Homo sapiens: one gene and its partners. The protein of the gene in region 4 interacts with the protein of the main gene of each other region in a pairwise test. Each region holds a gene or a part of one and is shown on either strand. Other genes may lie near its edges.

What was found.
Region 1: the proteins of TMX2 (region 4) and RNF24 interact in binary tests that used the Homo sapiens proteins (3 or more experiments, as listed by UniProt).
Region 2: the proteins of TMX2 (region 4) and SLC35A1 interact in binary tests that used the Homo sapiens proteins (3 or more experiments, as listed by UniProt).
Region 3: the proteins of TMX2 (region 4) and TRAM1L1 interact in binary tests that used the Homo sapiens proteins (3 or more experiments, as listed by UniProt).

The regions. Positions count from the first base shown.
Region 1 is NC_000020.11:4,005,535-4,012,568, forward strand, and holds part of RNF24 (RING finger protein 24), read right to left. Parts: intron 1-7,034. UniProt on the Homo sapiens protein: May play a role in TRPCs intracellular trafficking.
Region 2 is NC_000006.12:87,468,463-87,475,998, reverse strand, and holds the start of SLC35A1 (CMP-sialic acid transporter), read right to left. Parts: upstream 3,026-7,536; 5' UTR 2,996-3,025; coding exon 2,980-2,995; intron 1-2,979. UniProt on the Homo sapiens protein: Transports CMP-sialic acid from the cytosol into the Golgi apparatus, functioning as an antiporter that exchanges CMP-sialic acid for CMP. Binds both CMP-sialic acid and free CMP, but has higher affinity for free CMP.
Region 3 is NC_000004.12:117,083,025-117,090,090, forward strand, and holds TRAM1L1 (translocating chain-associated membrane protein 1-like 1), read right to left. Parts: upstream 2,553-7,066; 5' UTR 2,370-2,552; coding exon 1,260-2,369; 3' UTR 530-1,259; downstream 1-529. UniProt on the Homo sapiens protein: Stimulatory or required for the translocation of secretory proteins across the ER membrane.
Region 4 is NC_000011.10:57,736,585-57,741,499, reverse strand, and holds the end of TMX2 (thioredoxin-related transmembrane protein 2 isoform 1 precursor), read right to left. Parts: intron 3,893-4,915; coding exon 3,832-3,892; intron 3,715-3,831; exon of another isoform or gene 3,588-3,714; coding exon 3,474-3,587; intron 3,147-3,473; coding exon 3,070-3,146; intron 2,837-3,069; coding exon 2,730-2,836; intron 2,527-2,729; coding exon 2,461-2,526; intron 2,391-2,460; coding exon of another isoform or gene 2,370-2,390; coding exon 2,240-2,369; intron 1,402-2,239; coding exon 1,255-1,401; 3' UTR 527-1,254; downstream 1-526.

The DNA of each region.
Region 1 (7,034 bases), on a different chromosome or scaffold from region 4:
CCCACCCATTTCCCACAAACTACATTAACTCATAATTTGACGTTTCATTATCTGTCAACTTTTTTCATTCAGTCCAAGATAAAGAGACTATTTAGATATAATATTTAGGTTCTATTTCAAATTTATATCACTGAGCATAATTTCACATGCTCAGATTTGGGAAGGAACAATAAAGAGATACAGGTAGCTATAATTTTTTTTTGGTTTGCCAAGATGAACTTAATAAACTTAACAGATACTGCAGCACCATTCAATCTGCACATTTGAAAAAAAAATTAAGGCAACATAAAGCATACTGATAGACAGCAGTGAAACTATTAATTTTGAGAATTCAATAAACACTGTCATCAAATGAACTGAATGCTCATTATTCTTACAGTATGATATTTGCACTTATTTTGCTGTCAATTAAACAATTATGATATTAAATCTGCTAAAGGAAGTGAAGAACTGTATCTGATACAAGCACCTGTCTAATCGGGAAAACATAAGTACCATCAAAATGAGAGACAAGCTAAGACTACATACATAATTAACCTTCTATAGAATCTATGGTTTATGGCTAGGTGTGGTGGCTCACATTTGTAATCCCCGCACTCTAGGAGGCTGAGGCGGGTAGAACACCTGAGGTCAAGACCAGCCTGGCCAACATGGTGAAACCCTGTCTCTACTAAAAATACAAAAATTAGCTGAGTGTGGTGGCGCATGCCTGTAATCCTAGCTACTTGGGAGGCTGAGGCAGAAGAATCGCTTGAACCCAGGAGGCAGAGGTTGCGGTGAGCAGAAAGAGCACCACTGCACTCCAGCCTGGGTGACAGAGCAAGTCTCTGTCTCAAAAAAAAAAAAAAGTCTATGGTTTACACAGGAGCAAGCTTTACAACAAGATGGAAAAATTTTCCTAATTCAAATGATCAAAACTTTAGAAGATGACAACAAAAGGAACGGGCAAACCTCACTTTAAGAAAAGTTGACAAATAAAAACAGGAACTTTAAAAGCAGGTAACCTGGAAGTTACTTACAATATAAAAACATTCACTACAGTTCATTGCAACTTTAATACACCTAACAGTAGTGAATCCATAAAAATTCAAATTACATTAAATTTCCAGAGCAAATTTGTAACACGAGGTTCACTTGTAACATTATCTAAATAGCAGTTTCCTTTCCCTTGCCACTGCAGGCTTTCTCCAACTCCCTGGGGTACTATGGAGGGCCAGTGCAACTCTCTGGTATCAGACTATCCTTAGGGCACATGGAGGGCCCAGGCCAGCTTTCCCAAGAGTGGCCAGCCAAAAGCAAGGCCACTGGCCAGCTATTCTTGGGCCAGCTGGCATGGAACAAAGTGTCTGGTTCCTACCTCCAAAGCACAGGAGGCTCTGCCAGCTGGCTTTCAAAGGACTGCACTAGTTGGAATGCTCACAGTTCCTTTCAAACCATCTGGCATTCTTTTAGAACCCTCAATTTACCCAACACTACATTCTGAGATTTGAATTGCTCAGATAATTGAAGGAGTCCCCACTACCTACCTAGGTAAGAAAAGAAAGAGGCAGAGCAAACGCTAAGTCAATTACTTCAAGAAACAGTTTCTACAACTAAAAACTGCTCTCAAGTTTAGCTTGTATATTTTGTATTTTAAAATCTAAAATATTCCCATGATTATTAAGCAAACTTTCAAAGTAAAAACCAAGACAAGTAATAAGAGAATAAGCTAAAACAGACTATTTAACATGCAGAAAAGCTGTAGGAATCCCTTAGGGTTAGAAGTACCTGACTCTCCCTAGCCTGAACTTCTACAGAGCCTGTCTGTATTTTTTATGTGGTCCTCAGAATATACTTCGTACTGCTACATATATTTACCCTCCCAGCTAGCTAGTAGATGAAAAGAACATTGTCTTATAGCTGTTTCAAAAGAAAAAAAAATCTGTTGATGATATATTGGGTGTTTTTAAAGCTCCATTTCCAGAAATAAGAAAACTTAATGTGGAATAACATGAAGAAAGAACCTCACCTCTGAGAAAACCAAATAAACAAAGAACAGGACTTGGCTTGAAATAAAAATATTTTATCAAGTGATCAAAATGATTTATTGGCTGGGCATGGTGGCTCCTGCCTGTAATCCTAGCACTTTGGGAGGTGCTGGTAGGGTCACTTGAGCCCAGGAGTTTGAGACCAGCCTGGGCAACATAGTGAGACCCTGTCTCTACAAAAAAAAAAAAAAAAAAAGAAAAAAAATTAGCCTGGCATGCTGGTGTGTGCCTGTGGTCGCAGCTACTTGGGAGGTTGAGGTGGGAGGATTGTTTGAGCCCTGGAGGTTAAGGCTGCAGTGAGTTGGAGATCACACCACTGCACTGCAGCCTGGGCGACAGAACAAGACTCTCTCTCTTAAAAACAAACACACCCCCGCCCCCCACAAAACCAAGAACAGCTGAATCATCATATTGATAGCCCATATACCCTAGGAGATATAGTATTTTGAACAAAAATATTATAGAGACCAAGTCAGAGTCAAATATTATAAACTGGAGGAGGCTATAATAATTACTATTATTTTTCATTGAGTTTACTCCCAAGACGAGTACTGAGTTTCGTGTTTTACATATTATCTCATTTGGAACACAAAACAAACACATGAGGTAGGAACTATTATTAACCACATTACAAATGAAGAAAGAGAGAGGTTAGGAAACCTGCTGGAGGTCACATAGCAAAAAGTGAAAGAGCTGGAATTCAACTCCAAGCAGTCTGATGCCAGAGTCCAGGTGCAAGACTGCAAATATATATATATATTATATATATAATATATATATTATACATGTAATATGTATAATATATATATTATATATATAATATATATATTATATATGTAATATGTATAATATATATATTATATATAATATATAATATGTATAATATATATAATATATAATATATAATATGTATAATATATAATATAATATAATATATATATTATACATATTATATATTATATATATATTATTTATATATATTATATATATATATATTTTTTTTTGAGACAGAGTCTCGCTCTGTCACCCAGGCTGGAGTGCAATGGCACAATCTTGGCTCACTGCAACCTCCACCTCCCAGGTTCAAGCAATTCTCTGTCTCAGCCTCCCGAGTAACTGGGATTACAGGCACCCGCCACCACACCCGGCTAATTTGTTGTATTTTTAGTAAGATGGGGTTTCACCATCTTGGCCAGGCTGGTCTTGAACTCCTGACCTCATGATCCACCCGCCTTGACCTCCCAAAGTGCTGGGATTACAGGCATAAGCCACCATGCCCGGCCCAAGACTGCCAATATTAAGTCATACTTATGAAAGAATGAAATGTAACATAGGGCAAAATTTGATCATTAATATATTCTTCATAATTGTTTCAATTCTTAAGTGTAGCAAAAAATGGTGAGTAATTAAAAAACATGGATTCTCTTGTTAGAAATTTTTAAAAATCAAAAGCTATTTTACCAGGTCAGTTGTGCCTCTTTTGCCCATGTACTGAGTAGACACTTGTGCCACCTGCTGTCCTAGGGGACAGAGTGGTAAACAGGACAGATGAGGTCCTTGCCTTCCTGGAGCTGACCTTCTATTAGGGGTAAGTCACACAAAAATTATTAAACAACAGAATTTCAGAGGGTGGTACGTACTATAGAGGAGGTAGGGAAGGCACGTAAACTTCTCTTTTGAGAGACTTAACCATGTAGGTAAATAGAAAGGGATAGAGGAGGGTCAGGGAAAAGTTGTTTGCTGAAGCTTATTCTGATTTTAAAGATGGGCAACGTCACGGCATATGTGTATGCTGACATGGATAGCCCCCTGGAGAGTTGCTGATGATGCAAGAGAGAGGGCAAAAATGCTAAAGCTGTGAGATATGAGGGGGCATGAGGTATAGAAGATGTGAGGAGGAACACAGTAGAAAGGGGAGCTTGCCTCCGACAGGAGACAGAAAACATGGGTCTAAGGAAGGCAGATTTCTACATTTGGTTGGGGGGAAGATGAGTGGTTTCTGTCTGATATCTCCTAAACCCTCAATGAACTATGAGGTCAGCTTATCTGAGTAGGAGGGGTGGGTTGCTGATAAGTTTAAGGAGTGGAGAGAAGTTATGAAATAGTGATAGGCAAAAAGATCTTATTAAGATTCAATGGTAGCTTTGCCGGGCAGTGCTGAGTGTCTACTTCGGATTTTTGGTCATGAATCTGAAGTTCTCTTGTAATATCCAGCCACTTGGGTGGTGTCATGGAAAAGCCAAATGAATGATAAAGCAGCTATAAATAGAAAAAAAAGGGTTTTTAATTTTAAAATTTTTAAAGAGTAAACAAAGGATGTTTTAAAAATATGTATCCAAATTAGCCAGGCATGGTGGCGGGCACCTGTAATCCCAGCAACTGGGGAGGCTGAGGCAGGAGAATCGCTTGAACCTGGGAGGCAGAGGTCGAAGTGAGCCGAGATCACGCCACTGCACTCCAGCCTGGGTGAAAGAGTGAGACCCTGTCACAAACAAACAAACAAACAAACAAACAAACAAACAAACAAACAAGGCCAGATGCGGTGGCTCATGCCTGCAATCCCAGCACTTTGGGAGGCTGAGGTAGGCAGATCACGAGGTCAGGATTTCGAGACCAGCCTGACCAACATAGTGAAACCCCGTCTCCACCAGAAATACAAAAATTAGCTGGACATGGTGGCGCACGCCTGTAGTCCCAGCTACTCGGGAGGCTGAGGCAGGAGAATTGCTTGAACCCGGGAAGCAGAGGTTGTGGTGAGCCGAGATTGCACCACTGTACTCCAGCCTAGGTGACAGAGTGAGACTCCATCTCAAAATAATAATAATAATATGTATCCATGAGATAAACACAAAAATACTGACAATGTTCTGTGAAGCTGTGATTTATGCAGCTCCTTTTGCTTCCATCTTCTCATCACAGAAATTCTTGCAAACAATATATTTGTCACATTTAATAATGACATATTTAATCATGAAGCTCAAGTTAGTTTCTTTTTGGTCATTTCTTTTTTTGTCATTTCCTAAGGTGGATTTTTAAAAAATGCACCTGACAGCCGTCATGTTGGTTCATTTCACTGCTTAAAAGAAACTCTCTCTGATGTCAATTGATATTTTCATTGTTGATTTCATTTAAAAGTAAAAAAACTTAATCCCCTCTCTCAATGAACACATACACATCTACAGTGCTTAATCTCAATGCCTAAACAGTGGTCACAAGGAAAATGGGAAGGGAGATGCTGGCCTGATGGCGCTGGGCACCTAGCAGTGCCAGGTGCATGTTCTTGATCTTGCAGCTGTGCTCTTAAAACACAATGCTCAAGATCCAAAACGTTCGGGGGAGAATTCCTGTCTGCACAGGTTCAAGAGGAGGAAACAAAGACCCCACTGCTTGATGGAGGCACAAAGAATAGCATATTGGGTGAGATGGGGGGAGTATGCACACACATACATATACAGCCTTTTTGGAAAATACAATCTACCCCACAAGCAAAAGTAAAGAAAAATATCTATTCCAAGGTACATCATGAAATGTCAGGAACACCAGGGATAAACTGAAGATCCTAAAATCTTTCAGAGTGGGAAGAAAAAGGGAATGAGGATTAAAATGACATTGGACTTCTCAATAGTGACACTGGAAGCTAATGGAACAATGTCTTCAAAACAGTCACATTAATTTTCAATCCAGATTTTAACACCAAGCTAAACTACCATTCAAGAGTGAAGGTAAAATGAAGGCATTTCCAGACATGTAACTTCTGAATTCAGGAAGGAATTTCAGATTTTGTATGTACCCTTTCTCAGGAAGCTACTCAAGAATAAGGAAGACACAGGGTCCAGGAAATAGAAGACCTAACACAGGAGGAAGGCAAAGGGAATTCCCAAGATGATGACAAAGGGAAGTCCCAGGATGATGGCTATGCAGTAGTCCAGGGAGCAAACAATTCCAGACTGGAGTAGGAGAGAGGGGGCTCCAGCAGGACCATCTCCTGGGGAAAAGATATGAAAGTGAGTGACTACCTGAGAATATTCAAAGATAATCAGTTTTGTCATAGAGTTTGAATGAATTAGTGACTGATACAAAGAAAACTCAGCAAATGAAAACCAAACAAACAAAAGAGGCAATTATTTAATTCAGGAGCAACAAAAGTTGTTCAAGAAGAAAACACAGTAATAGCACCCTACGTGGCTCAACTGTGAATAACAGGTACACTGTCAGTCATATAAATCCTGAATACCGACCTAACTGTCAAGTATGAGTGGGAAATGGAAGGATAGTTATGTGAGACAGTTAAGTCTTCAACTTCCAAAATAGAAGTCCACAGAGAATATCCAAAAGTGAAGAGCTAAGAAATAGCAGTATAAACATTAAAAATGAAATAAGTATAAAGGTAAATACCAAAAGAAACCAGTAAGAGTTGAGAGTGGTTTAACTATATAATATATAAGACTGCTGATTTTGATTTTTTCTCAGTCTCAACATGGCAATTTCATATGATTCAAGCTAACACATTGTAATAGCATTATTACTGATCTTAGAATAAACTCCCATTTAAAACAATAAACAATTATTGGCCGGGCGCGGTGGCTCACACCTATAATCACAGCACTTTGGGAGGCTAAGGCAGGCAGATGGCTTGAGGCCAGGAGCTCAAGACCAGTCTGGCCAACATGGCAAAACTCCGTCTCTACTAAAAATACAAAAAAAAATTAGCCAGGCGTGGTGGCCAGTGCCTGTATTCCCAGCTATTCGGGAAGCTGAGGCATGAGAATCACTTGAACCTGGGAGACGGAGGCTGCAGTCAGCCGAGATCACGCCACTGCACTCCAGCCTAGGGGACAGGGTGAGACTCCATCTCAAAAAAAAAAAACAACAAAACACCCAAAAAACAAAAAAGCAATTATTGATAGAGAATGCTCAATGGAAAAATAAATTACTTTTTATTATGAGACATTACTGGGAGGATAATAGATCCTAGTTAACAAAGTGTTACCATCTATGCTCTTACCA
Region 2 (7,536 bases), on a different chromosome or scaffold from region 4:
ACTTTCCTCACCCACCTCCCACCTATTGTCCCCCAGTTCCCCTTCACCTCCATTCAAATCTTTAGGCTCAAGGTTAAACAGGGATCAGCAAATTTTTCTGCAAAGGGCCAGAAACAAATATTTTAGGCTTTCCAGAGCCATACTTTGACAACTCCAGGTTAAGAACCAGAAGGACACCAGGTGACTCCAGCCTGCTACTTTAACTACATTATATGCTAAGTAAGATTTTGTTCACTGCTTTGGGAGCCTAATCACAATTCAAAGATAGTTTTCATAGGGAAATAAAACAGGAGTTTCAAACAGATTATCTTTAGATACAGTATGGTTGGATCTTACAAGGAAACAGGTTCTTCAATATAAATATTTTCCCGAGTGCATTAAAGAATATTTTCTGAATTGTAGGCAATTTTTAAAAACCATATCAGGTTTTAAATAAAAAGTAAAACAGAAGAAATAGTTTTTAACTGCTTAAACTTTCTTTCCAAAAGATCTGAGGAGCCAAAAAATCAGTGTTTATATAAAAGGAAGTGAAGGAGATCACTATAATACTTCCTTTGTTCTAAAACTTTCCTACACAAGGGAAGAAATATGACTTCAAAAATATACAGCAATAACCTTTAATCAGTAGAAGAGAAGGCACTTCCCATCTTCTAGATAAAGGGTGAACAAACTATATATGTCGCCAGTTTACATGAGGCCTGTGAACTCACGATTGTTTTACATTTTTAAATGGTTGATAAAAAATGTAATAACATCTTGTGATATGTGAAAATTGCAGGAAATTCAAATTCTAGTGTCCATGAATAGTTTTATTAGAACATAGCCATGCTCATTTGTTTCTAAATTATCCAGGCTACTTTTTTTTCCCTACAACAGCAGATCTGAGTAGTTATGACAAGAGACTATCCAGCCCTTCACAGGAAAAGTTTGCCATCTCATGTCCTAGATTATCAACACTTTCATAAATAAGAGAAGTTAGGGCTGATAAACTAAAAAGTACTTTATTTTAGCTACTGTACAGGTTCCTGATTCCAAAAACAACAAAGTGAATATTTAAACACTAAACCAAATATTGATAGCCTACAAACATATTCTGACTTATAATATTGTCATTAACTTGAAAAAATACCTTTTTGCATAGTGAGTATATGGGAATATATATTATATTCTTGAAAATAACTACTGATCTAAGTGGAAGGGTAATCAAATAAGTTTAGGTATGTGCAAAACAGATTGGGCTTTGACATGGAATACCAGTTTTTAAACGTATTTCAACTTTTAAATACTAAATGTTTTTAAGTACGATTTTCTCTGGCAGTTTAACATCAGACCAAACTATTTCTTGTTCACTCCATTCACAAATTCTCCAGTATAAAACTTCAGTTATTAGCAATTTCAATTATTTCAGGGTAACAGCAAAAGTCCATATGTAATCACTTCAAATTGGGCAAATAATTCAAATCACACCCAATGCCAGTAACTATAAAGCTAGCCCACAACTCAACTGGCAGCCACATCTTAACCCTGCATTGTTCCCTGCTTCTCACGAAATTCTATTAGCTCCCATATAGTGTTTGTGTGGAAATGTCCCCCAAAAGAAACTTACAGTTTAAAATGTTTTTTTTCGGTTATGTTTTACTATAGTTTATGGGGACATTATTTGTAATACTTAAGAACTTAGAAATTCTGTAAGTCCCAGATAAATCCTTTGTGGATATTCGGAAACTATGGAAACTGTAGTTTTGTTAGGATTACAATCAAGGCTCAACAAATATGTATTGGCAATAAGCCTAAACCTTTACATTGTTGCAGCTATTTCAAGTAATGATTTGACTTCTGTAATTTATAAGTTTTCGTTCGGATCAATTTTGCTATCCCCATTCCATTTTAGTTATCAAAACAATTCTATTTCTTTTTCTTTTATTTCCTGTGTTGCTACAAAAAAAGGCTTTTAAGATTGGACTTATTTGAAATGAAACAGAAAGAAGACATAAGAGAAGCATATGCAACTAAAGACAATGCCCCTGGGCAGGGCCTGATGAGAAACATGGACCCCGCAACAGGGAAAATAACTTGAAACCCACGCAAGAAGATATTCCTTATGTATTCGTTCAATATTTATTCAAGGGTGAAGCCAAGTGCTCTATGGAGGAAGGGTGGAGCAAGAATCCGGGTGTTGCCCAACTTCTCCTGGTTAATGCACCACAGTCAAAGAATCCACCTCTGGTCCCAACTTACACACACTGCTCAGCAAAAAGTGGTGCGGAGTCAATTAGACTCGCCCTCCTTAAATGTCAATTAGTCAACAAATACGCCTTCACCCGAATGTGCCATCCCTCAGGAGGAGGGAGGTGGATCTCAGCTTCCACCCCAAATAGCAGCATACAGCATTCTCTATAATTACACACAGCATACAGGTGGGAACTGTTAACGACTGTTATCTTCCTTTCGTTACGATTTCAGTGCTGTTTTGACGCCCCAGTGATGTCTTTAGTGGTTGTTGCATGGCCCAGCCGCCGCATGGGATCTGCGCCCGGAGCCTGCCTTTAAGCCTCTGAGCATCCACAGGGTAGGAGGCGCAGAGGAGACCGGAGCCGCGGGGCCAGGGTGAAGAACTGTCCTGCCTCGCTGGGTAATGCGGTCCAGCCCCGGACCCACGCCCTGGCCTCTCTCCGGGTCCGCCGCAGCCCCGGCCTGTCAGAATTCGGTTCCCACCCACTCCCAGCTAGTGGAGGTCAGTGCGGTCTCTGACTCCGACCTGCCCAGCGCGGAGTCAGCCGCGGAGACTGCAGCCGCAGCGGAAGGCAGGCTGCCCTGACTGCCGGGAGCGGCTCCACGCAAACTCCTGACGCCTCAGCCAGGCCCCAGAGGCACTGGGCAACCAGGGTGCTCCGCTGCCCGACAGGGGCTGACCAGCGCAGATGCTCGCCCGCCGCCGCCCCCCGCGGACTCCCCACTCCCAGCAGACCCAGTTCTCACCTCTCGGGGCAGCCATGGTTCCCCGACAGCCCCCCGCGGAACTGACGCCCGCCCCCTCCGCGCCCCCGCGCAGGACACCGGGGACCGCCCCTTGTGGTCATAGAGACGAAGCCGCTCGGCCTAGAGCGCCTCGCCGGCCTCCCGGTCGGCCACGCACTAAAACTGGGCTCAGGAATCCAAGCTACACCCCAAAATGGGGAGAACGCGGATCGAAGGGAGGCCTTCCCGGCCGCGTCCTAGGTGACAGGTGTGTGAAATTCGGTTGGGGAGGTAGTTCTGTAAACTGCGTCTCCCCGCCAGCTAAGGAAGTTGAGTGAAGGGAGCGTTGCCGTCTGGGAATCGTAGTCCTCACAAAGGCGTGAGTAGGCGGCAAATAAGGATTTGGGTTTAGCCTTGGGGATTCACTCCTGTCAAAGCTGTTAGAGAAGCTCCCAGAACTCGTAAAGTAACAGAAACTACTTGCGGCAACATTTGTAACTTCCACCTGGCTCATTATCTTCCACTGTTACCTTGTGTTCTAGATAAGTTATAATTTATTCTACATATCGTTCAGAAGTCTTGTGCCTGTTCCATATCGTCAGCAGTCATCGGTTGTATTTACCCAGCCAGGCATTCTAACTAATGATCTTCGCACAACAAAACGGCCTTTAAAAAATCAGATGTATCGGCCGGGCGTGGTGGCTCACGCCTGTAATCCCAGCACTTTGGGAAGTCGAGGCAGATGGATCACCTAAGGTCAGGAGTTCGAGACCAGCCTGGCCAATATGGCGAAACCCCGTCTTTACTAAAAATACAAAAAATTAGCCGGGCGTGGTGGCGCGCACCGGTAATCCCAGCTACTCAGGAGGCCGAAGCGGGAGAATCACTTGAACCCGGGAGATTGCAGTGAGCCGAGATTGCGCCCCTGCACTCCAGCCTGGGCGACACAGCGAGACTTCGTCTCAAAAAACAAAAAAAATTAGATATATCAACAGGCATTTTAACCACTATAATCTCCACTTTCACTAGGGGATGTTAATTAGCTATCATAATTGATATTAGAAATAATTCATTGGTGAAATAAATGATGTTCAAGATATGTGGATTGGTTTAAAATAATATGAAAATACCTCAGCACTTACAGGAATAGGGATGCAAGATTCTGAGCTGCCCAGCAGCCCACACCTTCTGCAGCATGTTCTTTCCCCAAAATTGTCCTTTTAGAGGGTTGGTTGTATACCATTGTCTTGTTAAATATACATATAGATATATCTGGTCTGTTAACATTGTTGGAACATTTTGCATGCCTTATTAGCATCATATTAATATTGGGAGGGGCTCCCAGGAGACCAGAGTTGACTTTGTAGAGGCAGACATTTGATTAATCTCATTTTGCAATAGTGTTGGACTTTTCCTCTACCTGGTAGTAAGTGTGCTCACTGGTGCTAATCTTCCCTTATTGTAATTGATACAGTTTCCACTAGTAGAATTATTCAGTTCTCTACTGTGTATGTACTTATGCATACATTTAAACAATATTCATATATGTACGTGAAATTAATTTTAAAAATTAAAAATATTATATCATATAGTCCTTCGTTTTACAGCTACTGCTTTGTATGGTTTATCTTGTCCCATTTTGGACTATCATTATAGTGTCAGCTTACATCAATTAAGTATAATTTCTAAATGCTCAATTTGTTCCAAAAGGCACTTGTAAGCCTGCCTCTGTTTTCAAGTCTGCACCAGCTGTTTTTACTTTTTTTTTTTTTTTGTCTTTTTTTCTTCTTGTAGAGATTGTGGGTGGGGGCGTCTCACTTTGTTGCCCAGGCTAGTTCTCGAACTCCCCACCTAAAACAATCCTCCCACCTCAGCCCCCCAAAGTTCTGGGATTACAGGTGTGAACCACCACACCTGGCCTGCACTAGCTTTTTGAAGCATGTTTTAATTTCTGGCAACAAGAGGTTTTGTTTTTTCCTGTCCTAGGTGGTAGAATCAACTAGGAACTATCATTCCTTCTGGTGAGGAAGCGCATTTTACACACACACACATGCACACACACGCACACGCACACACACACACACACAGAGATCCCAATTAAAGTGGTGGGTCAAATGTTGCTGAGCCATTTTTGTGGCATTTCTGGTTCACATAACATCATGCTGTTGAATCCTACTTTTCTTATACATTTTCATTGCCTCAAAAGACTATTATACTTCACTGGCATCAAACTTAACTAGATTTTCATGCCTCTTTGTCCTAACCCAGTTAGCCCAATACCAACAGGACAAATCTGCCAAACTATAGTCTGACAAAGTTGAGCTTACTGATGCCTTCTGATATAAAGTGGGTATTTGTCCCTGCCCAGATGTGATGTTGAATTGTAATCCTCAATGTTGGAGGTGGGGCCTGGTGGGAGCTCTGGATCATGAGGACAGAACCCTCAAGAATGGCTTGGGCCATCGCCTTGGTGATAAGTGAGCTCTTGCTCTGAGTTCACAGGTGATCTGGTGTTTTAAAAGTCTCTCTCTCTCTTTCTCTCTCTCTCCTGCTCTGGCCATGTGATGTGCCTGCTCCCACTTCGCCTTCCACCATGAGTAAAAGCTACCTGAGGCCTACCCAGAAGCATATGCCAGCACTGTGTTTCCTGTACAGGCTGCAGAATCATGAGCCAATTAAACCTATTTTCTTATGCATTACTCAGGCTCAGGTATTTCTTTATAGCACTGCAAGAACCACCTAAAACACATTCCAATGAGGGAAACTGAACACCAGAGGTATCTCAGGAAACAAAAAAGATAAATTTATAGAATTTTAGGGAAGGATGGGATTAGGTGAAATTTAAAGGAAGCAGTGTTTGATAAACTCAAAGCAGGACTATATGTATCCAATAGGGACTGTAGAACAGTCTCAGGATCCTGTTTCTTGAAAACTACAAAGTTACCATAGATGTGGAATGTTGTATTCAGGAGCCCCTTAATTGAGGCTGCTTCTTTGTATGAAAATGATGTAGATCCCCCCAAGCAAAAGTAGGGTGTTTCATTCTTACTGATGTAATTTCAAGCAGCAAGTTTTCCTAGAGTATATGATTTTAGAGAACAAAGTTTTTCAGTGAATTAGAAAGCAAACACTCAAAGAAGGGCCTTGCTATTATACTTTATAGTGTCAGCATATACTTAGTTATTTCCCATTAACTTTGCAGCAGGGTTTACCTGGGTTTGTTATCCCAGCTCAATTAATGACCAAGCAGCTATTTACAGTCTTACTCTGAACTAATTTTTACTTTCTCACTCTGAATTATCCTCAGTCTTGGAGGAAAAAAATATTGATTTAATGTCTTTCTTTCATGTGTGCCTAGTTTTCCTTACAACTCTGGTTAGAGAAAGCAGCAGCAATCCTTAACATATGAGATACAAGCCCCTGTGCCTGATAAGATAACCTTACAGTGCTTCAAGCAGCCATTGCTAATGCCACTTGAGTCCCTAATGATTTCTGATTGTCACTAGAAAACTACAGTATTTGCCTCAATCCCCTGCTCTCTTCCATTTCCTGCTCATGTATCAGAGCTACCCTAGTCTCAATGATGTATATAAAAAGAAGCCCAGTACTGTATCCATTGGTAATAAAGTAAAAGTATGAACTTAATTAAATAAAAAGGCTGTGAGGAAGCAAATACCAAAAGGCTTAAGGAGGTTATAATTGAATTCAAATATGGTAGCTATATAATAGATTATTAAATGTGGTAATGTTTAAAGAATAGTAAGCAGTTAACCATAAAGAACATATATAGATATAGATACCAAAAGAAAATTATTTCCCTGACAGTTTAAGCATATTTCTTTCATTGTGCTATTAAGCATCCAAAACCTATTTGCTAAGTTATTGTTTTTATTTTATTTATTTTTATTTTTTGAGACAGAGTCTTGCATTGTTGCCTGGGCTGGAGTCTAATGGCACAATCTTGGCTCACTGCAACCTCCGCCTCCAGGGTTCATGCAATTCTCCTGCCTCAGCTTCCTGAGTAGCTGGGATTACAGGCACACACCACCACACCCAGCTAATTTTTTGTATTTTTAGTAGGGACGGGGTTTCACTATATTGGCCAAACTGGTCTCAAACTCCTGACTTCCTGATCTGCTGCCTCAGCCTCCCAAGTTATTGTTATTTTAAAGCAATTATTTCCTACAGTATAATATGACTAAAAAGCCAATAATTGTCACATTTTATAATTGATAAAAGGATACAGGGAGATAATGTAAAATTCAATGTCTGGATTAGGAATTAAACATGAGTAATAATCATGTGTATCCAGACATTTCATATTTGAGCTTAACTATCCCTTGCCTCTCTTTTCTTTTTTCATTACCGTAATCCCTCTTTCCTTTTCCTGCCAGTCACTGATGGTTTGTACCTATTTCTACCATTTTATGCTTGCTTTGCATCAATGGTATTTCCACTCAAGCCAACTCTAGGAAAAGAGAGTTTGACAATTGCCTACTCCACTGATAACTCTAATCCATCATCCTCTTTTGTTATTCACCATTTTTTGAAAGTCATAATGTGCCAAGCATTATTCTA
Region 3 (7,066 bases), on a different chromosome or scaffold from region 4:
TTAGAGATGAGAGACATAGTAGGAGAAAATATAACGGAATAGGAAATATATGGCCTTCCCCTAGCATATTTGTAAAGTACTGTCTTACTGAAAAATTATATAAACACATTATGGAAATAAAACTGAAATAAGGATTGAGAGGCAATACGTATAAATACTCACCCACTAATTCCCATTGTTTCCATTGGCTTCTGCAAAGATACAGATTATACATACATGTGTATGTAAATAATCTTCAAAATATGTCTTATACAGATAAATGTTCCCCAATTAAAGATGAAGACAAATAATCACAACATTATTTTTCAAAAGCCTTTCATGTGACTATCTGATTTTCAACTTATTGAAGGTTGATGCATAACATGCTTTCCAAATGTAATTAGCTGACTTTTTTTATACACATGCCAAGTATTATTTTTCAACCTGGTATACAAACAATATTTTTCTAAGATGCTGTGGTTACTGATCTTACAAGGCCTCATTAGGAATCATTTTTAATAAACATTTTTAAAAAAGACTAAGTTCAATGTCCTTTTTAAAGTAATATTTAATTTCATGAATTCCCATTTACAAGTGGAATGGACAGGAATGATTTTAATATTTTTATATTAATTAATGATATTTTGATGCAATATATATGGCAGCAAACCTCCATATGTGTTACCCATTAGTACTGTGTTTTTTTAAATGGGGATGAAGCACTAATAATCACTACCTGTAAAATAAAGAACATTTATTATTTTGGTGAGTCTAGCAATCTTTTCTGAGTTGTAAGTTCTTAAAAAATAAATTCTAACAATTACAGAATACTGATTTGACTTCCACCTTTTTCGTACTTTTATTTTACCCCAAAGCAAGCATTAAACACATAATCTTGCTAGGAGAGACCATCTTGTTAGTATTATGAAACACTGGTGGGAGTAAGAACCAGTATCATTGATATGCAAAATTGTGCAGTTATCTCTGCAAATCATTAGGAAAATGTTGAAAGGTTAAAAATCAAAACAAAATATAGTGGTGATCCCCAAAACTATTTTGACATTATTTTGACGATGAGTAATTTAGTCTCAACCAAAATCTTTTTTTCCCATTCATAATAATCCTCCTCCCCTCAAATGTCTTTAAAAAATACATGAAACAGTTCAATAACAAAAACCGAAGAGCACGAACTATTTTCAAAAACAGAAAAATCTCTAGTGCAGAAAGAAACCTCAAAGAGCAGATTCCTTTGCAGACATTAATCAATGCGCTTGCAAAGATTATGAAGATTTCTCTTTCCTCTTTGGCGGACAGTCTACTCTATTTGAAGTTTCCACTCCCACTCCGTTTTCTGTTCTTTTTTTAGAAGATCTCGACCGTTTCTTTTTCATACATGAGGCCTGAATATTAGAATCTTCTACCCACCTCTGAAGCCAGAGAGTAATTAAGTTCCATGTTACGTAGGCTTGGATCGTGCAACTGGACGACAGAACAGCAATTTTAGCTGCCAACACATTTACATTTCCAGTAAGGGCATCAGGATTCCGATTCTGCGATCCAGCCAGGTGAAACCCAACAGTGAGTACGGAAACAATTAAAGTCACAAGTCTACCCAAGATAAACACAATGGCCCACAGAGATATGCCTTTCTGGTACTTTTCATCACTAAAGTAAAACAGGCCGCACATGTGGGAAAGTAATTCAACAAAATAATGCAGTACCAAAAGAAGAAGTCCCAAATGATTCAAGTACAAGAGATAAGCTCCAGTAATGTGGAAGAGGTGAAGACCAATGTAGACAAGTTGACGAGGGATGTCTTGTTTTTTGGTTTTCTGGAAGTAGAGTTCAGGAAAAGCATGAAACCAGTAAGCCAACTGGGATATGTAGAAAAACTTCATTTGAAATGTCATCATGCTATGGGGACGAGCCTTCCATATAAGAGTTGGGTCTGACAGGCAGTTTTCAGAGATTAAAATGAATGTGCCCCAAATACAAGAAAAAAAGTAGAACACACTAAACTGACCAGACTCGTTAAACTTGTTTTGTTTCGCTTTGGTGAACTGCATTCTCTTGTTAATTTTATCCAACACATATTCCTGAATTGTGGCATGAATAATGATTGCCACCAGCATGTAGAAGAAAACCGTGGCCAAATCTTTGACACCATAATAATAGAGGGACTTTGAGCCCGTGGCTTGTTCCTCTGCTGCAGGGACAGCAACACTGTGCTGAAGAGTGAGAAACACGATGGATGCTTCTGCTGTTCCCTCGAACACAAGCCCCAGCAGGAAGAACATCCCCACGCAGGAGACGATGTCCGCATGATTCTGCAGGATGAATTCCTGGCTGAGAACGGGGGGGTTCTTGGTGCTCTTCTTACGGAGCCCCATGGTGGCGCTTCCCGGATACTCACCGGCGAGCCGCAGCTGCCTCCCCCTGGCTGCTCCTCACAGCGCCGCCGCCACGGTAGCAGCTCCGGGGGCTCCACTTCCCATCCCGAAGTCAGTCCCGGGTCGCAGCGGCCGCCCAGAAAAAAAATAAATCAAAGGCGAGGGCCGAGCTGAGCTGAGCATGCGCACCAGGGGGACGGCGGAGGCAGGGAAGGAAATCGAGCGCCGCGCCCCTACCCGGCGCCAGGCCCGGGGTTGCGAGCGGTGATCTTCAACGTTGATCGTCGCATCTTCAAACTCGCTGCCACCGCCAAGATGCTCCTGAATTCTTTTTTTTAGTGGCATCTTCATTAGTAATCATGATAAACCTATAGAGCTCTGGTTATTCTTCAGATCATTAATTATAACAACAATAGCATAATAATAACAGCAAACTCCCAGTACTAATTACCAGTTGCTGTGCTAAGCATTTTATTTATATTTATGAATTTAACTTTCCTGAAACACCCAGTGAGGTAGATACTGTGATAATCTCCCCTCCCCCACCCCTTTTCAAGAGACAAAACACTGAGGCACAGAGAGGTTAAGTAATATGGCCAAATTCACCTCCCTAGTAAGGGTTAGAGCAAAGATTTAAATCCAGTCCGGCTCCAGAGCGCCTGTTTTTCACTATTACGCTGTATTGTCTCTTATTGTAAATCAATTATACCTGGAAATATTTACTAGGTCAACAAGATAGCATATTAAAACTAGTTCCCCTATTTGCAATAATAATAATGTTTGAAATGATAACGTCTAGCCAGTATTTTGAAAGACTGGCACTTAGAGGGAGAGATGTATTAGTTCATGGAAAGGTCTCTTTTTGGCTACAAAGCTCAAAACTTAATTTCTTCATTATAACAGAAAAGAACCTCATATGTCATTTGTGTAGGTTTTGCATATATGGAGGAATTGTGAATTGAAGTTTCCCAAGACTTCACGTAGGATTTGGAAACTTTCAAGACTGGAACAGCCAGAAAGTAGAATCCTCATTGAACACTTGCAACATTCAGACAAGATCCAAGGAAAGCTACACTGTTTTAAGTAAGGCTAAACTTGCCCTAAGGATAAAGCTAATTCATGCTTATAAACACAAAGTTTATAAGAAGCCTTGAAAAGGTTAAGGTACTCTAGGACTGTCTACCAGAATGCCTACTTATGGCCTCTAGGTGCATTGTTGGCATTAGCATGAAAGGGTGGCTTAATGCTCCAAAAGTGGGATTTCTAGCAAGCAAGACAGAAAGTAAATGGCCTTTTATGACCTAGTATTAGAAGTTATATTATATAATTTTCAATACCAAGGTAGGCACAAGCCTGTTTTACTTCAAGGTGGAGTGAGGATGGAGGGGAGGGTGTGGACCATACACATCAACTTTTAATGAGAAATGTACCTAGTATTTGCTAATTTTTTAAAAATAGCCACATCCTTTCCGTTGGGAATAAATTTTGTTTCCTCTGACATGAAATATACACTTTTTCCTTCCAATGCAAACAATAGTCTCATATCAATATAGCATCAGGTTCAGGCTTCTTACACAGGATATTTTTGTAAGCTAAATCAGATCCAGGAGCAGATAAAGGAAAGTCCTATCCTTTGTTGTACTTACTCTTGGTCTGAAGACTTGTGAACTAAAAGAATAAAGTTTTTGGCTCCCACACACCCAAAGCGTAGGAAAAATGCAACAGACACTTCCATCTACGAGTGAGAAAATGGATGCACACAGCAGTCAATAATCAATAATAACTATAAGATACATCCAGGTAAAGTTCCTAGATTTTGGTTTGAGTCCAATCTTCCTTTCTAGGAAATGGTGAAAGATTTTTTTCCCTAAAACATGGATTAAATATTATAAGTTGATTTGTTTCTGTATGTTGGCTTGCATATATTAAAAGATAAAAGACACTAGAAGCCAAATAGTGTTAACGTAATACTGTTTATCTTTGTCTTTGTCATGTAATAGTCATTGATTATAGAATTAATTCTGGAGTATTAATTACACATTAATACTTCAAGGAATTAACGTTGAATAAACAAGTTTACAGGTGGAATCAACAGAACAACATATGAATCAGTTTCTGATTATCCTCAATCTTTCTTGGTCTCATGTATTCAGACGATTGCCAGGCATTGGTCGAATTATCTATTTAAAATGCTATATTGATTTTGTTATAAGAAACATTTGATTTAAAAATATCAATAAAAGTTCTCACGATAGTTAAGGTACTGTATTTCAAATAGGTGTTAATAATTAGTTCTTGCTGTTAGCTATGCAATACAACCTTTTGATGTCTGTATTTTATAACTCAATATTATTTATATGAATAGCTTAGCTATAAAAAGCTCTTTTAAATTAGTTATGTGTCTTTTAAAATAATTACCTTAAAATATAAACTGACATTGATTCTGATTTTGCTAAAATAGTAAAGTACAGAAGAAACATTATAATATAGAGGTAGCCTCACTTTTCAATATTTTTATATCTAAGAATAATATATATGTGTATATCTCTATAATACCAACCTTTTAATAATTTAAATTTGGATTATTCAATTACTTGAATTGAACATTAATATTCCAGAATTCAGTTGCATTTGAAGAAGCAAGAAATGTTGCTTTGAACTTCAAAATATCAGACCCAAGTCTGATTTTTAAATCGATGTTTATAATTAACATTTATAATTGACTGAGCTCACCAAATGCTTAGCTCAATTAAGCAAAAAAATACAGTTTATCTTGTGCATGAAATTACAAAGTCTCTTGGGATTTGATTGACTTAAAGTTTTAAATAATTTAATTAAAGATATATTTATTATTTTAAAGTCATTTTTGTAATTGATAAGACATGTTAAAACATGAGCTTTTAGAAGAACACACCCTATGCAATATGGCTAAATATTTATCGTAATAAGGAAAACTCAACATAATATTTACAGCTTTTAGAATACTTATTTGCCCATGGATTTATTAGTAACATACCAAGAAAAAATATGAAGCACTATCTAAGGATAAACTCCTGGAACAGGTTAATAGTGTCAGTCTCCCACTAAAATGTAAGAATTCATAAAATTAAAATCAATATTTAGTAATTTATTTTTTCAATTGCCCCTTTTATGGGTGAAAATAAACCTTATACCCATCCTCATGGAGCTTACATAATAATCAGGGAGAACTAGAGGACACAAACAGTACAAATATGTGTTTGCAAATAGCCAGTGAAAATTGCTGGGAAGAAAATGTGGATAAGAAGATGAAGCATAAATGATGATAACTATTTTAGGTAGAGTGGGCAGGGACAGCCTCTCTAAATAGGTGATATTTGAATAGAGATGTACATGAAGTTAAAGTAAACTATACAAATGTCTGGAGGGAAACATCCTAGGACGTAGTTCAAACGTTACCAGGCAAGAGCAAGAATGATTGTCGCATGAACAGCAAAGGGGCCAGGATGACAAGAATGTAGTAAGGGAGAGGGATGATTGATAAAGTAACAGAGATCATTAGGGGGCATTTCTTATAATGCCTGTAGGCCAGGGTTAAGGAATTTAAAGTTTGGTCTAAGGTCTAAACATTGTAAGTATTGTGTTAATGGATTACTTCAGCTTTTGTGAGATATACTATTTGTGGAAGCTGCAAAACTACAAAAAGGCCGTTGTATAAATTGTAATTTGCAAACATTACACTGAACTGTTGTATTTTTTATTGTATTTTTTAAAACAGTCTCTCTCTCGTCTCTCTTTGTTTATATAAAATATTTCTTTGGTTGCTGCCTGTGAAGTAACTGATGTGGAATATTCCTCTGATTCTACTACTCTTCCAAAATTTCAGTTGTATAATATATATGGCATGACATATGACAGAAAAACCACCTTATACATTTTTTTTACATGAAAAAACAATGCTGCTGTGTTTCTATTTGGTGTCTAGTAGGAACGTTAAATTGCAGCTTGATGATGTCTTCAAAAAATCTACTTCCTCCTTGATGGAATCACTGCCTCCCTAATGATTCATATGGAATTTCAAATTTTTCTTAACTCACTAAGGGTGTATATATACACTTACACAAAAAATGAAAACCAAATGAAAAATAAAGAAAAGATCATTTTAGCATTATTTTTGTAATATCCTTATATATCAGTGCTAATATAGATGAAAACATCAATAGTATTTTAACTCTTTTATCAACTTTCTGACCAAAACAATCCAACTTTAATAAACTACCCATACAGATAAAAATTATTTTAATTCTCATTGGAAATGCCTGTATTCCCTAGTTTTACAGAGAAAAAATGATTCTTACAGTTATTTGAATCCTTGACAGATTCTCCCTCAAGGTGTGATGATGTAGACCTACCTAAGGGTCACACAACACCAGAGCTATTTTAGTGTTTCCCTAAAGGTAAACTTCCATTGAAATTTTTTACTTCTAACATACTTGTATTTTAATCTTTGAATCTGTGCTTTAAAACATATGCTCAGAGACTAATAATCCTTATACATAGCTAGTTTATATGATTCATTTAGATAGTCTGGAAATAAAGCATGTGTTTCTCTTTAATTGCTTGGAAATTAATAAGTATTAGAAATATTAAAAATTAAATTATAATTGCCCAAATATTTTTGGCACACTTTAAACAGATGAGTATTTTATACTGTCCTT
Region 4 (4,915 bases):
GGAAGCTCTGCTCCTACAGCGGAAACCTCTCTCAAAGGAAGGGAAAGCTTGGCCCGCAGCACCCACGTGGCCTGGAGGCGGACCTTGGGGCACAACCACTTTGCAAGCAGGGAGCGGGAAGGTGCGGGAAGCGCCTGACGGAACCACCCATCGCTTCGGGTGGAGGGGACAGGGGACGCTGGGATGGTGAACACAGCAGGAAGGGGCGGAGACTAGGTCCGACTGCTAGCCTCGCTTCGCGCAATCTTTTCTGTACCTTTGCATGGCGCTAAATGTTGTGTGCCACCATCTGCCGCCAAACTCTCCTCCCTGGCAACCGCAGGCCAATCCCAGAGTAAACCCACCACCTAACAACATGTGGCCGCTATTCTAGATTTATGGAAACTAGACTTCTCCAACTCTTGCCAGTCCTGGGGATCAATGCCCGGCATTTGGTGAAACCAAATAGGATGGCCTTTGCCCTTAAGATGGGCAATTCCTCTGCAGTTGTCAGGCTTTTCTAATACAGAAACACACAAACGCGCAATCAAAAGGAAATCCCAATCTTTTTATTACGGAAAGCCATCAACTGGGTGTGGGGAGTATGTCAGAGGGTTAGTGAAAGTCCAGGGGATTTCTCCTCCAAGTCCTACCACACAAAGGAAAGTCTCAAGCCTCTATTCACCCCTTCTCAATCCCCACAAAATAGGGGGTTGTTCAATATTGTCTTCAATGATAAAAACTTTGTGGTTAAAGGTTTCTCCTTAGGACTAGCGACAAAGTTAGGCTTATACTTTTAATGAAGACCATAAACGAAGCCAGAAGGGCTTAAGGAAGCAAGAGTCCTTGGGGGAAAATTCTTAGCGTTCTATACCCCAGCATCTTACCTTAGGGTTAAATCTAGGTCTAACCAAGCTGTGCAGGTCAACTAAGAAGGAATGATGAAACCACAGAGTTTCATGGAGAAACCATGGAGATGTCTGAATAGCTGATAAGCAGTTAACACACTGACCCAAGCTTGGAGGGAAACCATTTCCCCCTCCGTCCTATGAGATCTCTTTCTTGCTCCAGTGAAACAGTTGGCCACAGCATGGCAGGCCTTCCTGTAGGGTGCCTGACAATTCCCTAGATGCCTCTTTAAAATCAGAAGCTGCATGCTGCCCCACCCAGTCACAGCCAAAGGGAAAACATAAATAAAAGGCTGCAGCCTCAGGCTTGTGGTTATGGAAAGAGCCTGGAATTGACAGGAGAGGAAGCACTGCCAAAGTGAGGATCTTATTTATCCTTCTTGTTTTCCCCATCTGACACTGTGGTGGGGGTTGAAGCCACAGGCTGCTCCTCAGGGATATTGTCTCCAGCCTTTGATAGTTTCTTGGCCCGCTGGTATAGCTCATTTAAGTTAAATTCTCGGATCACATTCTCCTGCACAAAAGAGATGCACACGTCAGGATCTGGGTTGGAAGGGAGAGTAAAGAGCCTGGGAAGTAAGAGGTATTTTACACAAAGTCTGGGAAAGGAAGGAGTAAGCAAAGGACAAAAATCTTCCCTAACCTTCCTCTTTTTTAGGTACCCAGAAAAGTCAACTAATAGTTAAATACCCATTATGTGCCAATCACCGTGCCAAGAATTATACCTAAATTATTTAATGTAATCTGCAAAACAACCCTGTAAGCCAGGGGTTATTACCTCCAATTAACTGACAGGGAACCTAACACCTACAGACAATAGGTGCAGTGGCCTTCGAGACAGAATCTTTTTTTTTTTTTCCTGATGGAGTCTCTTGTTGCCCAGGCTGGACCGCAATGGTGCAATCTCAGCTCACTGCAACCTCCACCTCCCGGGTTCAAGCGATTCTCCTGCCTCAGCCTCCCAAATAGCTGGCATTATAGGCATGCGCCACCACACTCGGCTATTTTTGTATTTTTAGTAGACACGGGGTTTCTCCATGTTGGTCAGGCTGGTCTCAAACTCCTGACCTCAGGTGATCTGCCAGCCTCGGCCTCCCAAAGTGCTGGGATTACAGGCGTGAGCCACCGTGCCTGGCCTGAGACCAAATCTTAACTAATGATTGTTACCCAGTACTAGCAGGTCTGCACATAATATATATTTGCTAAATGAATTAAAACATGAGGTCTAGTAACTAGTCCACACCCTCAAAGCTAATGGGCAAGTGGCAGAGCTGTGAATCAAACCCGGGTAGGGCTTGAAAGCCCACCTACTGTTCTGCACCCTTCATGCACCTGCCCTTCCTTTCAGGTACCTCAGAGAAGGTCCATGAGACAGCCCGTCCTTTCTTGTCAATCTGTGGCCGCCGCATTGCCTCCTTGCCACCTTGGAACAGGATCAGGGTAGGGAGTTGCTTGGTGAGGGGTGATGTGCTCACTTTGTACCTGCAGGGCCCAGAAAGTTCTCTAAATGTCCCTGTATGTATCACTCAAAGTGATTTCCCTGCTCAGACCCTCTGCCCAGGTCTTTACATACCGCGTACTAACATCAGTATAGCGTCCAACATCCACCTTCCCAAAATTTAGCCCTGTACAGTTGTATCTGAAAAGAATATATTATTTAATATGCTGAAAAAAAATAATGGATCAAGGAAAGTGGAAGTATAGATATTTAAGAGGGGAGAGGGAGATGCCTTTGGTTACCATGTGTGAAAATCAAGGCCAAAAGAAAAAGAAAAGCCAAAAACAGTGAGAGGGAAGGCACAGCATCTCCATTTCCACCATCCCTCCCTTTGCACTACTCACTTAAGGGAGAGGTCAGCATAGATAGGGGCAAATGATTGGCAGTCATTAGACCAATTGGCAAAGAACTCCACAATCCAAGTGACCCTCTTGTCCCGTTCTAGTTCCTCCTGCCAAATACAGGGAAGAAAAGTCAGCTGGATCCACATAGCCTCCTGGGAAGGTTCAGACTTTAGCATCTAATTCCTCATCCTGGTGTTCCCTCTCCCCCGGCTCTCATAATGAACCACAGTGCCCGTGACATCCATTTTGAAGCACTGTTGTTCCTCCTAGTGAATGGAGAGCACAACTACAAAATCACCCACAAGGGACCCAAGAAACAGAAAGGGGAAAGAGCACTCACATCAATGGTTTTATCATTGAAGTACTTGATATACTCAGGGCCCATATATAGGGGGGGTTTGCACGTCATCAGGAACACTAAATACAGAAAGAAGATGTCGAAGGAAACATAAAAAGCCTTACACAGGGAATTTACTTCCAAACCAACCCAAGGATTTCAGCCCCCAAATAATACACACTTGTGGATATATGTAGACCACCAACACATTCCCTACCTCTACAATAACAGTCTCTGTAAACTGTTATCATCTGAGCTACATATATAATTCATTAGGTATGAGATATGGAAGAAGGGTATGGAGAAACATGTTTGGGATTGCAACTGTTGGGACTGTGGTTTCCACAATCAAGTCTATCAACACAGTCTTACAAAAAAAAAAAAAGAAAGAAAGGCAGTCTCCTCACCTATGCAGAGTGTGATGTAAAGTAGGCCCATGCGAATATCCAAGCGGAAGAAAAGAATTGTGTTGGCCACTTTACTAAACATGAAAATGTTGCCTATATGTTGCTCCACAGTGACTGAAACACAGAGATGTCACAGGTCAGGCTGGGCTGTGCACTCCTATATCCCATTCTTTGTCCCTCTTCATGGGGCACTTTGAAATAGGAGACAGGGAGGGGATAGAAGTCCAAGTTCAAATTCAGCCTTGGAATTAAACGTAGGACAAATTTACCAAATGATTGCCACTCTCTTAACATGAAGCAAAGCACCTCCAAAGGGCATTAGATCTAACCTTGAGTCTGAGAAGTGAACTAAACTTACTGGATCTGCGGTTCTTCATCATCACAATGGCACTGAGAAACATCAGGATCTCCACTTCTCTCTGGAACAGAATCGAAGTATTATAACAGGAATGCAGTGACTAGAGCTAACTTAGGTGGGAAAGGGAACTAAATATGTAATAAAAACCAATAGCGATCCAAACTGGGAATGGGAACAATAAAGAACTGCAGTTAGGTAAGGTGTACGGGGATAAACATCAGTCAGAAGACCTGGATTCAGGTTCTACTCCTGCCACAAACTTGCTGGTGCTTTTCTTTTTGAGACAGAGTTTCACTCTTGTTGCCCAGGCTAGAGTGCAATGGCGCGATCTCGGCTCACTGCAACCTCCGCCTCCCAGGTAGCTGGGATTGCAGACATGCGCCACCACACCCGGCTAATTTTTTTATTTTTAGTAGAGACAGGGTTTCACCATGTTGGCCAGGCTGGTCTCAAACTCCTGACCTCAGGTGATCCACCAAAGTGCTGAGATTACAGGCACGAGCCACCGCGCCAGGCCTGCGGTGCTTTTCAACAAAGCACTTAATCCCTTAGCTTTGGTTTCCTCAACTGAACAGTATCTATTTCAAAATGCTACTGGGGGATTAAATGAGATAACAGATTAAAAAGAGTTGTATAAAGCATGATATGGTATAAAATCGTAAGATTATTAATATCAACTCAATGTGACGCTGGTAGAATAAAACTTTTCCAGGTAAGTTTTCTTGATAATAGCCCATTAATATAATATCTAGCTATTCCACATGTTTAATTTTTTTTTTTTTTTTGAGACAGTCTTGCTCCATCGCCCAGGCTAGAGTGCAATGGTGTGATCTCAGCTCACTGAAACCTCTGCCACCTGGGCTTGTGTTTCTCCTGACTCAACCTCCCAAGTAGCTGGGACTACAGGCGCACACTACTGTACCTGGCTAATTTTTGTATTTTTTGTAGAGACCGGGTCTCCCCATGTTGCCCGGGCTGGTATGGAACTCCTCAGCTCAGATGATCCGCCCGCCTCGGCCTCCTAAAGTGCTGGGATTACAGGTGTGAGCCACCGAGCCCGGCCCCCATTACTTAATCATTCCTC